Homo sapiens: one gene and its partner. The main gene of each other region encodes a partner of the protein of the gene in region 2 in a complex. Links are inferred from orthologs where the notes say so. Each region holds a gene or a part of one and is shown on either strand. Other genes may lie near its edges.

Region 1 (7,269 bases), on a different chromosome or scaffold from region 2:
AATACTGGAAGATGCTGCTGCTCTGATTATCCACCATGTGAAGAGGCAGACAGGCATTCAGAAGGAGGACAAATATAAGATAAAACAAATCATGCATCATTTTATTCCAGATTTGCTCTTTGCCCAAAGAGGTGATCTCTCAGATGTGGAGGAAGAGGAAGAAGAAGAGATGGATGTAGATGAAGCCACAGGGGCAGTTAAGAAGCACAATGGTGTTGGGGGCAGTCCCCCTAAGTCCAAGTTACTGTTTAGTAACACAGCAGCTCAAAAATTAAGAGGAATGGATGAAGTATACAACCTCTTCTATGTCAACAACAACTGGTATATTTTTATGCGACTGCACCAGATTCTCTGCCTGAGGCTGCTACGGATTTGTTCCCAAGCCGAACGGCAAATTGAAGAAGAAAACCGAGAGAGAGAATGGGAACGGGAAGTGCTGGGCATAAAGCGAGACAAGAGTGACAGCCCTGCCATTCAGCTACGTCTCAAAGAACCTAGTGAGTGCCGAGACCTCTGATTTACAGAGGATGTGTGAGGTTGAGGACCTTAGAGCCACCTAGACTTGGGACTGCTTCTTTTATTAATAGAGCACAGGCATTAGAGTCTGTGTAGTTAAACTCTCTGAACCTGTTTATCTGAAAAATGGAGGCTCTAGTTGCTTGTGGTGTTGCTTTGTGCAAAGTATCCTATGCAGGGCTTAGATCATGGACACTTGGTCAGTGGTTGGTACTGTGGACGCACCTGGGAAGGGGGTATCACAGTTAATTTCTCAAATGGCAGATTTCTGGGTTACTGCCATCTGTTTCAAAGTACAGATAGAGACTAAACTGTCACAGCCAATTTCAATCCATGACAGAACATAAATTCCTAGTGCTTAAAACAGAATTTTCTCATATTTTTGAGCAGGACTTCTGTTTAACCAGTGGGGTTTATGGCTCATTCTTAATATGTAGAAATAGTTTATGGAAAGGAGACTGGAACTCAAAAGGTGATATGAGACATGGAGAACAGGCAGGACAGGGATAAAGATGTAGAACTCAGGAAAAGGAAAGTAAGTGAGGGTTCAGGACGCTGTCATGTGCTTTATGTAATTTTGTGCTGCCTGCTTCCAGTTCACGTCATAAATTAGGTACTTGAGCTGTGAGCCAAAAGCTTTTTCATGAAGCATTTCTTCTGGGCTCTTAAGGAAATAGCCAACCTGAGGAGTGTATCTTCTTCTTCTTTTTTTTTTTTTTTATGTGTTGCTGATGTAGGAAGCCCAGATATGGCCCTAGCTTTCTATCTGTTGAGGAGCTAATGACACTGAAAAATAATTCTGAAAGCTTTTATCTAGACTAGTCCTAGCTCGAAAGAGATAAATTTTAGATCTCATTGTGGTGATTCCATCTACTTGGGTAGAAATTAGAAATTAAATGGCCTATTCCTGGCTTGGCCACTGACTTAACCTGGTTTGAGGCTTACATAATGTTGTCTTGTCTGATAATGCCAACCCTCACACTTACCACAGCTTGTTTGGACAAATCTGTGGTTTGGACTCAAAACTTTATTCTGGCATAAAAGCAGTTTTCATAGCAGTGGTATATTTTGGAGTCTATAGCCTATACCTATTCTATGGAGCTAAAGAATGTGATAGTCTGTGATGAAACTCAAGCCAGTTGCCTCTTTTAAACAGTATTTGTCCTGTTTTGCCTGTTTTTTAATGAATTCGTCAGACTTCAGATAAATGGAGACAACTTGGTTTTGCTCCTAGCCTTTTTTCTCCAGCACAAACACAACTAGCAAGTAACCAATTAGTCAGTGACAAATAGTTCGTTTTGTAACTTTTTTCATTTTAGTCAACTTTTTGTTGAAGTGCAATGTATAGGCCGGGTGCAGTGGCTTACACCTGTAATCCCAGCACTTTGGGAGGCCGATGTGGGAGGATCACTTGAGGCCAGGAGTTTGAGACCAGCCTGGTTAATAAGTGAGACCCCATCTCTACAAAAAAATACATATAAGGTACGGCATGTATATATAGAAAAGTATACAAATCAGAATTGTGCAGCTCAGTGAATTTTTACAGACTAGACGTACCTATGTTCAAGAAACGAAACATAACCAGTACTCTGATAACCAGTCCTTTTTCCACTTTGTTGATTTCTAACACTAGAGATTAGATTTGTCTATTTTTGAACTTTATATAAATGGGTCTTTAGTAAGCTAAAGGCAGCACTCTTTAATACTCCTTGTGCCCTCTGCTAGTTGCCAAATGTCTTTAACAACTGATGAGATTTATTCTAGCTAGTGATTGAAATGATTCATGTGCAGCAACTACAGATGATTTAATGCAATTTGTGAAATACAACGTAGCGAATCCATTTTTAAACAAAAGGACTTTGACAAATGCAGATTACTTCATTATTCATAAAGGATTTAATTTGCACTCCTATTTTTGTGTTCCCAAGAGGTTTCCCAGTGCTGGAGTATGGCTGTGTCTGCCTTTCCTCATCTGTACTTTATGCTTCATTGAAATAGCTTTATGAGCAAGTGACCCATGTGAGGAATGCTCTTGTGCAGGCTGGGAGAGTAGGTTCCTCTCTCAGCAGGGGAGCCAACAGCTCTTTGAAGGACTGGCTTCCCTAGGATATTTTCCTCTCTGAAAGTGGCCCAGCAGTACCATAAAGAAGTATCTTTCTAGCATGGTAGTCAGAATATTAGAAGCCACTGTTAAAGTTGCAGAGTCACTCTGATAGTGCTGGTGATTGTAGTCACCTGTCGGAATTCATCTCTGTTTACATTGGAATGAGTGAGTATATTTTGAATACCTAGTGTTCATACTTTCAAATGCCATTTAGGCCAGCTGTGGGATTTGCCCTGTACTCTATCCCTAGTCTTTTCTTAGCAAGGTAAGGCCTCACCAATCCCATCTCTCCCACAGTGGATGTTGATGTAGAAGATTATTACCCAGCTTTCCTGGACATGGTGCGGAGCCTGCTGGATGGCAACATAGACTCATCACAGTATGAAGATTCACTGAGAGAGATGTTCACCATTCATGCCTACATTGCCTTTACCATGGACAAACTGATCCAGAGCATTGTCAGACAGGTGAGGGCATGGAGGAGGCTAGGGTGAGTAAGGGAAGAAATCCTTACCTAGAGATGGGCCACGCAAGGAAAAGGAAAGGCAACTTTTTCATATAACAGTGTTTATGAACGTAGGGTTCTGAAGAGAGGAGGGGAGGTTAATGTGATGCCTGATTTCTCATGTTAACAAAGTTGCAGTGTATGAGCCTGCCTACCCCATATCCTTTCTTGCTGGCCACCTGTAGAGTGCAGTGGTCCTGACCCCAGCTTCCTGCACAACTTGTCTATCTCTTACCTTGTCTGCCATGGGTAAGCACACAGTGTGGAACATTGCGTCTTCCATAGGTGTTGGTAAGTTTTTTTTTTTTTTCCTTAAATAGAGACAGGGTGTCACTGTTTTGCCCAGGCTGGTCTTGAACTTCTGGTCTCAAGTGATCCTCCTGTCTTGGCCTCTTAAAGCGCTGGGATTATAGACACGAGCCACTGCGCCTGGTCAAGGTGTTGGTAACTCTTATGTACTTGCATTGTTTAATATTTGAAATTCTTTTTATAAGAAAGGGTTCACATAACATCTTTTATAATACTCTGCCCACCTCACTCATCTGCGGTTCCCTCTAAGTTAGGTTTCTGGTTGGTTTTGTGTGTTCTTCCTGTGGCACCCTGGGAACTTGTAAACATGTTGTTCTTTACAACAATGATATAAAAAATAGCTTGTAACAGATAGTCACATTTCTACTTCTTGGACTTGAGTTCTGAACTCCCAGAGAGATTGTTGGTTAACTGCTTTTTTCTTTTTCTGGAGACCCAGCTCTACTGCTGATTGACTGCAAGTCCCCAGCAGGGCTTCATTTTTCCTTTTCAGCATCCTGTTCTGTGGCTCCCTTGGCCCTTTTTGCCCATATGCCAAAGAGCTGAAAATTGATGTGGGCTGTGTGAAGACTGGCAAATACCTTAAAGTTCTTAGTGATGATTCCAGCTTTCTCCTTCTTATAGACGTACTATATGGGCATTATTGGTCCTGTCAGCTGGGTGGCTGATTTGAGTTTTTCAGAACTGTCTCCCTTCTTGGGGGCTAAGAGCTTCCTGGAGAAGAGGTTGAGCTTGGAGTCTTAACTCCTTCAGGTGCTGAACATTGGCCCACAGGGACATGGTGTACTAATGCCACCCTCTTGTGGATGCTGGTCACCCTTAACTCTTCTAAGCTGAAGCCCCTGCCAGCTTGTACTTTGGTGTGGTACCTCACTGTGGGGCAGCTTACCATGGGTCAGATGGGTCCAGATGCAGGGTGCAGGTCAATGTGGTATACTTTTGCTTGCATCTGCAGATCTTCTGGGCTGGCTGGTTGAACCACGTGGCCATGGGCCACTGCGATTCCTTGTGGAAGTAGGGCTTTAGGATCATGCTGTTCCACCTGGGTACCGTGGCTACCTACAGCCCTCTTCCATAGAATAGCTCAGCAGAAAGGCGGTGAAGTACTTAAGTGAAAACTTGTAAAAAGCAATTTCTAATTCTAGAATCCACACTGCCACTGTAGAAGGAAAGAGCTTGTTGCTTAATGTTCTCTTGGGCTAAAATATTGAATTCTTTGCAAAGTACCCATGCTTTTGCCTTGGTTTTGGAAGGGTGCATGCCTCTGTACTCCTCCCACAGTATCTACACAGGATTGAGGAAGAGCCCTTCATATAAATGAACCTTAACATCTGGGGGAAAGTTGTCAGATAGTTGTTTCCAATAAGTTGAAGAAGTTGTTAGGCCTTCCCATAAGAGGTCTGGATGGTAACTGGCAGAAATCATTAGATGGATACATAGTCACCCATAGTCATACTTTTTCAGACTAATCTTCCTTAACTTCCCTGAAATTTATATAAAATACAGACTCCAGTTACCCTGTGCTTATGTTGCTGATTACAGGCTTGCTGCTGCTTCAGCTAGGAACGAAGTCTTTCATACCACCAGCACAGCTTAAAAAAAAAATCCAATAAAACTAACTTTTAATAATTCTGAGGTTGGTTTTCGAAACAATAGTTACAATTATTTACTGTATCTGGTTATGATTTTGAATCAGTAATAAATACTATCTCCACCCACCCCCCGCTTTTTTTTTTTTTTTTTAATGGAAACAGGTTTCATCCAGAAAACCCCAAAACAGTGACTTTTTTTTTTTTTTTTTTTCCAACCCAGGGTCTCACTCTATTGCCCAGGCTGGAGTGCAGTGGTGTGATCAGCTCACTGTAGCCTTGACCTCCTACCTCAGCCTCCCAAGTAGCTGGGACCAAAGGGGCCACCACACCGGCTAATTTATTGTATTTTTTGTAGAGATGGAGTTTTGCCATGTTGTCCAGGCTGGCCTCAAACTTATGGGCTCAAGCAATTCACCTACTTCAGCCTCCCAAAGCGCTGCGATTACGGGCATGAGCCACTGTGCCCAGCCTACAGTGACTTTTTAAAACATTTTCAAGCTTCTCAACTCCTTTAACTGGAGGTATCTCTTCTCTCATTCTCCTCATATTTGGTGTTCCCTCAGATTCCACTGCTGACTGAATGTACAACATATATTTCAAAGTCAAGGCTGGTCATGGTGGCTCATGCCTCTAATACCAGCACTTTGGGAGTCCAAGGCGGGCAGATATATTGAGTCCAGGAGTTGGAGACCAGCCTGGGCAACATGGGGAAACACTATTTGTATTAAAAATACAAAAAATTAGCTGGGCATGGTGGCACATGCCTGTAGTCCCAGCTACTCAGGAGGCTAAGGTGGGAGGATCATCTGAACCCAGGAAGTTGAGGCTGCAGTGAGCCGTGATTGCACCACTGCATTCCAGCCAAGTGAAGCCATTACATTTATCTTACCTATTGTAGGCTGGCTTAAGAGGGATTTGTATTAAGAATACAATAGGCAACCTCACAGACATCCAAGTACAGAACTCAAAATAGGACCACACCATGGAAGGATTGGGCTGGGAGGTGATTTTTCTCTCCTGCATGCCTTCACTCTGGACTTCTGCTCCATGCTTGTGCTTTGCTCTGCAGATGAACATACGGCATGTGCTCCAGGCTCCTCCAGCCTCTGAGGCTTTGGCTTGCCCTCCCAGTACCCCTGGTCCCAGTGTTACTAGACCTTTCCATACAGATGCTCCTCCTCAAAAAATCTATTGAACACCCTCTCTGTCATCTCCAATTAGCAAGATAGAGAATCTGATCTGCTTAGCAGTGGGGGTGGGAGTTCCGTAGCTGTCTCTGGATTTGTAGTGCTGTCTTTTCTGAAGACTCGAGGAGGGGCCAGATATCCAAAAAGAGAGTATGGGTGGGGAATCAGTAATACAGTCTACTTCAACAAGAAAGTATAAAGTAGAGGCGGTGGCTCACGCCTGTAATCCCAGCAGTTTGGGAGGCCAAGGCGGGTGGATCACTTGAGCTCAGAAGTTTGAGATCAGACTGGGCAACATGGCAAAACCCCGTCTCTTCTGAAAATACAAAAAAGTTAGCTGGGCGTGGTGGCACATGCCTGTAGACCCAGCTACTTAAGAGGCTGAGGTATGGGAGGGTTGCTTGAGCCCAGGAAGTTGAGGCTGCACTGAGCCAAGATCACGATGCCACTGCACTCCAGCCTGGGCGACAGAGCGAGACTCTGTCTCAAAAAGAAAGTAGAAAGTGGAAGCATCTGTATGTATGATTGAAGTCATGCTTTCCATCTGTTTTTTTCCACCTTTTCTTTTTTCTCCTAAAACACTGTATCTTAATCTTCCTCATGATATCAGGTACTCATAAGCATTATTTTAATGGTTGTATCAGAATCCTTTATCTGGACTCATTGTGATTTATTTATCCATCTGTAGTTGCTGGAGATACTGCCCTTTCTGCCACACTCAGTCACCGTTCTGACCTTTCACTGTGTCCAGTTATCTACTAATACACATACTGGTCATTTAGGACTTAAGAATAAATAGTTATCATGGTTCCTAACACTTAAAAAGAATGTGTCTTCCTAAAAATAGAATGGCTTGGTGGTTATGATCATCTTAAAGTTTTTTAAACAGACAAATCAATATTGAAATTAACGTTTTGCTTTCTTCTTGTATCTATTTTTCACTTCTGTCATTTTGATGATAAAGTTTCATTTGGAAGGATTTTTATTTCAAAATAGAAATAGCATGACATGAGAATGGGAACTCTGAAACGTTCAACTTTCTAGTCATTAGTTTCC
Region 2 (6,562 bases):
TCCCTTCCAGCTGTGGCACCTAAGTCTTGAGTAGAAGGTTCTCCAAGAAGTTGGGCTATTTTATGGGAGAAAATTCTAGAACCTATCCCCGCCCAAACCACCGAGACTACACACTTCTGGGCTTTCTCAGCTGAAACCCTGATCCTGTTTCTCTACAGAGTTCGTGCAAGAATCTCTAGAGTCTCAGGTAGGCTGCGGCAGGGCCACCTTTCTGCCAGTGGTGACATTTACATGGACCGGCACCCTCCCCCACACACCTGCAGTGCATTCTTTGTGTCTCCTCTGAGCCAGACAACTACCCCACCCAGCCCAGAACTGAACTCCTGGAGCCCCAGCACAAGAGGTGTGGGGCTAGTGTCCCCTAAAAGTGAGGTGCCCCTACTTACTCCCCCGCCTGCTTCCTATACATTCAGCCCTGCACTGCCATGCAGACCACCCACCCACTCATTAAAGGGGCTCTGCCCAGTCAGCCCAGAAATGCCTTAGGTCATGGATACCCTCGCCCTCCGCCTAACACAGCAGGGGGTGATCTGCAGTGAGACAGAAAGAGACCCCATTCCTGCCTCTATGACTTACTCTGCTCCCAGCCACACGGAGCCTGTTTTGCAAACCAACACTGTTTTATTGTCAACACAACCAGCCCACTCTGCCCTGAGAAGGCTATGGACAATGGGTGTCTGGGGTCTGTGGGAGAGAGAGGTCAGCACCCTGAGAACTGCTGGGGCTACCACAGGGGCTGGGTGGGTCAGAGGTATGGTCTGGGGGGCCAACCGCGGAGGAGCTGGGCCTAGGCTCCCCCTGGCTCATCTGCAGCAGGCCAGTGAGAGCGATCAGCTCCGGCCCGCTGAGCCAGGCAGTGGAGGGGCCCCGGGAGGGTGATGGGCGGGGGAGCACCCTGGCAGACATGATGGGGGGCGGCGGCAGCAGTTTCAGGGAGCCCATCATCTGAGGAGAGAGAATGGAATGTGTTTCCTGCCAGGCAAGCCTGGAGGCTGGGGTAAGGACAGGGAGGGGAAAGAGCTCTCACCTGCTGGGGGGCCTTGGACAGGTACAGGGGAACACGCTGCCCCCGGGGCAGCAGAGGGTCCGAGAGGAAGACATCTTCACAGCACACCACCGGGAACCCTAGGAGGAAACACCACTAGGGTGGCGGGCTGCGGGCTCCCACCCCTGGGCACTGGTTCCCAGAGGAGTTGGGGCAGCCTTGCGCCCCCGGGGGACCAAGGGAGGTACCTGCATCTGGGGGCGCCTGCTGTCCATTCCAGTGCCCTGTGGCAGGGGCCACGGGCCTGAGACCCCTGCCCGAGGCTGCTTCATACAGCGGCCAGAATGAGGGGTGACACAGCGTCCGGCCTGAGAACGAGGCTCCTGAGCTACAGTTGGCCCCCTAGGGTGAGGAGGACAGAGCACTGGAGCCTCAGGCCACCGCACAGCTCCCTGAGCACCCCAGCCAGTCCCACAGGTTTGCCCCCAACTCACCCACACCGGCCGAGGTCCTGCTTTGGCTTCATACTTGGGGTCCCAGGGCGCTAGTGGAGTCATCCTCGAGGGGGCCACCTCCCAGGCCACCTGGGGGGAACGGGGATCTGGGGGGACGCTTGGGGATTATAACAGGCTCACAGTCAGTGAGAGGCTCTTAGGGGTAGTAGAGGCAGCAGGGCCTGTCCTACCTGGGGCTCCGGGGGGCTGCTCAGTGGCCGGGCCTGGCAGGTGGTGGGGCAGCAGCAGCTGCTCTCTCCAGATCCAGGAAGGGCTACGGGATGGGGGCTGTGGGCTGGAGGGGCAGGGACTGAGGCTGCAGCCACACCGCCCCCACGCACCCTCCCCTGGAGCCCAAGGGTGCCTGGTGCAAGGGAGACCGAGGGACCCAATCTCCAGCAGGGACAATGGAGAAGCCTCCGTAGAGCGCGTGGTGAAGGCATGGAGGCCCCCAGTCGCTGTCCCCCCACGGCTCCGTCCGAGCCCCTCACCTGTCCCATGGGGGTGTCCCCAGCTCCCTGGGGGCGTCCGCTCCGGCGCTCCAGGGCTCGCCCTGGTCCTTGCCCGCCGGAAGGCCTGGTCCCTCGGGCGCCTCCTCCGGGCCCGCGCCCCACCGCGGCGGCGACCAGGGCAACATTCCGCGTTCCCGAGCGCAGGACGGTACCGCCGTGTCCCCGCCGCCCGGCCCGGCCCTCTCAGCCTCCCTCCGCGGCGCGGCGCGAACGTGCCCTCCTGGCGAACCCACCCCAGAGGCCTCGCGGCGACGCTGGCGCCCTGTGCGTCTCCCGGCCACGTGGCGCGTGCCCCCGCCGGGCTCCCGCGGGCGCCCCCTGGCGACTGGGCGGTGAATTCCGGAAACAGAGGCCCCCCCAACAACCCCGCGACGCACGTGCTCTCAGACACAGTTACACCTGAGGGCCACCCAGAGGGCTTCTGGCTTCTGTTTATTGCGGCTGACACGACACCTGCGACACCCGCGGTCCTTCCACCCAGACCCTCGACCCCAGAGGCAGCCAGGCCGGCAGGCCAAGGGTGCCCAGGCCCAGGCCACCCTCACCACGTGCTTCTCTGAGAGCGCGGAGCCCAGGCGCGTCTTCTGCTCCCGGGGTCCCGGGCGGGGTGGGCCCTGTGCCCCCACCTTCACCCCTAAGGCCGGTCCAGCAGGGCGTGGACGACAGCAGCGATGTAGGGGAGGCCCCTTCCCGGGGCCCCCTCCTCTTCCAGGATGTGGTGGGGCTGGCACAGTGACTCCTGGGGGAAGGGGCCGGGTTAGCTTCCCCACGGTGCCCCCTGCGGCTTCCGGCCTGTGGCAGGGGGTCGGGGGCAGACCCGAGCATCACCGTGCGCTCGGGGCTCGGCGACAAATGAGACGCAAGAAAGCTGTCAGCGATAACAGAAGGGAGGTGACACGGGGGGTTGGCGGACGCTCCGGGAGCATGAGAGGCCGGCATCTCAGGAGGGAGATGCTGGTGGGCACAGAGCCATGGCCACAGCCACCAACACGCGGAGCAGACGCGCGCGCGCGCGCACACACACACACACAGGCAGGGCGGCCACGGTCTGTACAGTTTATACACAGAGATAGGGACCCGGCCTGGGCCCCGAACCCCTACAAATATAGATCCTCTCTACAAAATAGAGATAATTTAGCCCCCCCATAGCAGCTGTTGGGGGGGGAAGGGGAGGGCACAGGAGGAAGGGGGAGACTCCAGCTCCTGCCACCCCTCACGGGGTACAGAGGGCAGGGGCAGGGCCGGCGGGGACATGAAGGCACCGTCAGCACTGAGAGGTGGGGACTCGTGGGGCTACTGGAGGGAGGCCAGAGGCTGGGGGCCCAGGGTCTGGGGGCACCAGAGTGGGGCCTCTGAGGTCAGTGTCTGTGAAGGGGGTGCACTAGTGTCTTTGGTTGGGGCTGAAGGCACCGCAGGTGGGGTCGGGTGGAGCAGGGACCTTATAAATAGAGAGGAAGGGAAAGGGGTGAGGGAGGGCCGATTTTGGGGCCTAGGAACCCAGGAGCCGAGTGTAGGTGACATAGAGCAGCAGCATGAGGACCACGTAGAAGACGACGAAGCCGCCCAGACCAGAGGGGGGCCAGAGGGGCGGTAGGGCCTTGCCCCCCACCCGCTTCACGGCCTCCAGCGCGGTCCGCAGCCCCCGGGCAGTGCCCTGGAGGAGATCCGAGGGCGAGCACAGGTCAGCCTGGGGGAGAGGAGAGCAGGTGGACAAGGACAAGGGACAGACGTCAGCAGCAGCAGCAGGACAGTCCCTCCCACCCCTGCCCTCACGTGCTGGGGCCAGAACCACGCCCACATGCTGACGTGCTGGGCAGGGGGAGTGCAGTGCAGGAGGAGTGCAGGGCAGGGCATGTGCAGGACAGGTGACATGCAGGACAAGATGGGGCCTGCAGGGCAGGGGATGTGTAGGACAGGTGACATGCAGGGCAGGGGGCATGCAGGGCAGGGGGCATGCTGGGCAGGGCAGGGGCAGCCTGTGCCTTCATCTGAGAGCAGACATCCGCTGCAAATGGAAGCCCACCATCCATGCCACATGCTCGGCTGAGTCCGGCATGCCACCACTCTTTAGAAAGCAGCCCCCATACCTCAGGCACCCCCATTTTTCGACAGGCTTCTAGAAAACTCTCCACATTCTTCCGAGCCTTGAGGGCACTGAGTTTTGGCTGGGGTGGGTGAAAGAAGAAAATGTGGTAAGGGAGAGGCCACAGGCGCCCCGGCCCATCCCCCACCTCTTCCCCAGCCCCAACTGACCACAGCAGGGGAGGGCACATGGATGAAGGGCACGGAGCGCGGCCGTAGCTGGTTGGCCAGCTGGCACAGGATGACCCCACTGGCCAGAGCCTCGGCCAGGTCCTCAGGCAGGGGCCGCTGCAGCCGGGACTCAAGGACCTGGCAGTGTAGACCACATAGAGCAGGGGTCAGGGAAGGAGAGGCGTCTGGGAGGCAGGGAGAGTGGGGGGCTCAGGGCTAGCAGGGAACTTGTGCCTGTCCCTTCCTGTCCTCAGGGGAGGTGCCAGAGTGGGCACAGAGGATGTGGAGGGAGGCTGGTCCCAAGGACAGCAACACAAGGAGGTGCCCGGCCCAGGCCCCTGCCCACGCAGCTCCCGCCTCTGCTCACCTGGCGCAGCTGAGTCATTAAGTCCTTCTCATCTGGAACCTGGGGGTACCGCCGAGGTCTCAGGACAGAGTCTGGTGAGGAAGGGCCTAGGAGAAAAAGGGGGGCATGGGGCTGCCTCCACTGCTCACCACTGACTCTGTAGCTGGGTCCCAGTGGCCTGGCACCTACACCTCCTGCCTCTCTGCTTGTGGGATTTTTTTTTATTTCATGGAGATGGGGTCTCGCTATGTTGCCCAGGCTGGTCTTGAATTCCTGGGCTCAAGCGATCCTCCCACCTGGGCCTCCTAAAGTGCTGCGATTACAGGTGTGAGCCACCACACCCGGCTTGCTTGTGGGATTTTCAACGCAAAGGTACAAAAGGTACAACAGACCCAGAGGGCTCCCAGGGCAGAAGGGTGATGTAGCCGTTGGTGCTGGCAAGCACTGGGTCAGCACTGGGGAGGGCAGGACACCCACCTGAGCCACTCTGAGAGGAGGAACGGAAGAGGAAGCTGTTTGGTCTCTGAATGGAGCCAAGTGGCCGTGGAGCAGGTGCTGTCGCTGGGGCCGGAACCAGGGACACAGCGACAGGGGCAGGTGAGACAGGCATCCCCTCTGTGTCCCTCTCTCCCAACCAGCCCTCACCAACACAGGCCCCATCCTCCTCCCAAAATCCCTGTCCCACCTGGTCCAGCTATGGGAAGGGGCTCTTGGGAGGCAGGGGCAGGGGCGGGGGCTCCCTGCCCCGCTGCAGCCCCTGCTTGGGAGGCACTGGACTTAGGCGAGCCGCTGAGGAGAGACAGAAGGGAATTAGAGGGATGATGGTCATAGGAAGAGGAGTGGGGAGGGGATGCTGGCAGGAAACCTACTTGTGCATGGCTTGAGTGGACACGGCGGCGGCCCCTCCCACAACAGCCCTGAGCCCTGGCTTCAAGAGGCTGGAACAAGGAGAGGTGGGGTCAGCTAGCCCCAAGGCAGAACGGCTCAGCGGGGCTCGGTGGCCCCATTTCCAGGGCTCAGTGTCCAGCAACAGCCCCGGGCGGCCCTGGGTCCCACCTATCCTTCCTCGGGGCCCCCCACGCCCCGCTCTGCTGCTGCTGCCGCCGTTCCCGCTCCTGCCACAGCTGCAAGGTGTCCGGGCGCCGCCGCTCCTCCCCTGCCGGCTCCTCCCGCCTGAGGGACCAAGACAGGGCAAGAGGGGCAGACCCCGGGGTCAGGGAAGGAGGCGGTTGGGGGGTGGGAGGATCGGGCAGTGGCGTCAGTTTGGGGGCTTGGGGTACCTGCTGCTTGGTGCCCTCTCCCTGTCCCCTGCCCCAGGGCTTAATTCGGGTGGTCGCTGCTCCTAAGGAGAGAACAGCAGAGCAGCTGAGGGCAGGCCTGTGCCCACGCCTGCCCTGTCCCCTCCTCCAGCTCCCCTCCCTTGGGAGAGGCATAGCTGGGCTCTCACCTCCACAGTGCCTCGCTCTTCATCCTCCCCGGGGACATGGCTGTCGATGAAGTCAATCTGCACAGGGTCTCCGTCCGCTGGGGAGGCCAGCATGTCAGCAAGTGAGCGGGGACCCAGGCCCTGGTCCAGCCCAGCTCCCGGCCAGCCCTGCTACTCACCTGAGCCATCCTCCTTGCGTTCTCTGGGTCCCCGGGGCTCCCGGGCCAGCTCTGAGATCCGGAATGACAGCTCTGAAAATTCATCTGTTGACTGTAAAGGCAGAGGCAGAGATGGGAGATGGCCTCTCTGTACATGGGGGCTCAGGACCTGGGGGGTCCTGTGTGGGACTAAGCTCAGGGTCTCTGCTGAGCCAGCCCTTCCCTGGGATGCTGGGCAGAGGGAAGGAAGAGGACAGCTCCAGCCTCTGCCTGGCACCCTGCAATTTGGAGGTCCCCAGTTCAGAGGTGCTCTCCCAGGGCTGACACCCTCAATCACCCATGGACAGGACGCCCTTACCTCATTTCCAGACCACCTCTTGCTGCCACT

What was found.
Region 1: the proteins of SAP25 (region 2) and SIN3A are in contact, whole or in part, in an NMR structure (PDB 2RMS), measured with the Mus musculus proteins. The link is inferred for Homo sapiens from one-to-one orthologs. Residues at the interface, in NP_001075431.2 of Mus musculus: Ala208, Glu209, Ile211, Ala212, Leu213, Ala214, Gly215, Leu216, Leu217, Gln218, Met219, Ser220, Glu223; in NP_001103821.1 of Mus musculus: Leu121, Lys122, Val123, Ala126, Leu127, Leu130, Tyr144, Phe147, Leu148, Met151, Lys152, Phe154, Lys155, Thr161, Val164, Phe182, Phe185, Leu186, Pro187.

What each region holds. Positions count from the first base shown.
Region 1 is NC_000015.10:75,385,470-75,392,738, reverse strand, and holds part of SIN3A (paired amphipathic helix protein Sin3a), read left to right. Parts: coding exon 1-497; intron 498-2,917; coding exon 2,918-3,087; intron 3,088-7,269. UniProt on the Homo sapiens protein: Acts as a transcriptional repressor. Corepressor for REST. Interacts with MXI1 to repress MYC responsive genes and antagonize MYC oncogenic activities. Also interacts with MXD1-MAX heterodimers to repress transcription by tethering SIN3A to DNA.
Region 2 is NC_000007.14:100,571,627-100,578,188, forward strand, and holds SAP25 (histone deacetylase complex subunit SAP25), read right to left. Parts: upstream 2,275-6,562; 5' UTR 2,117-2,274; coding exon 1,971-2,116; exon of another isoform or gene 1,775-1,970; coding exon 1,671-1,774; intron 1,587-1,670; coding exon 1,480-1,586; intron 1,388-1,479; coding exon 1,234-1,387; intron 1,126-1,233; coding exon 1,028-1,125; intron 946-1,027; coding exon 661-945; 3' UTR 602-660; downstream 1-601. Other genes in the region: LRCH4 (leucine-rich repeat and calponin homology domain-containing protein 4), read right to left, coding at 3,761-4,156, 4,245-4,382, 4,612-4,697, 5,068-5,151, 5,276-5,379, 5,460-5,528, 5,647-5,763, 5,871-5,932 and 3 more. UniProt on the Homo sapiens protein: Involved in the transcriptional repression mediated by the mSIN3A but not the N-CoR corepressor complex.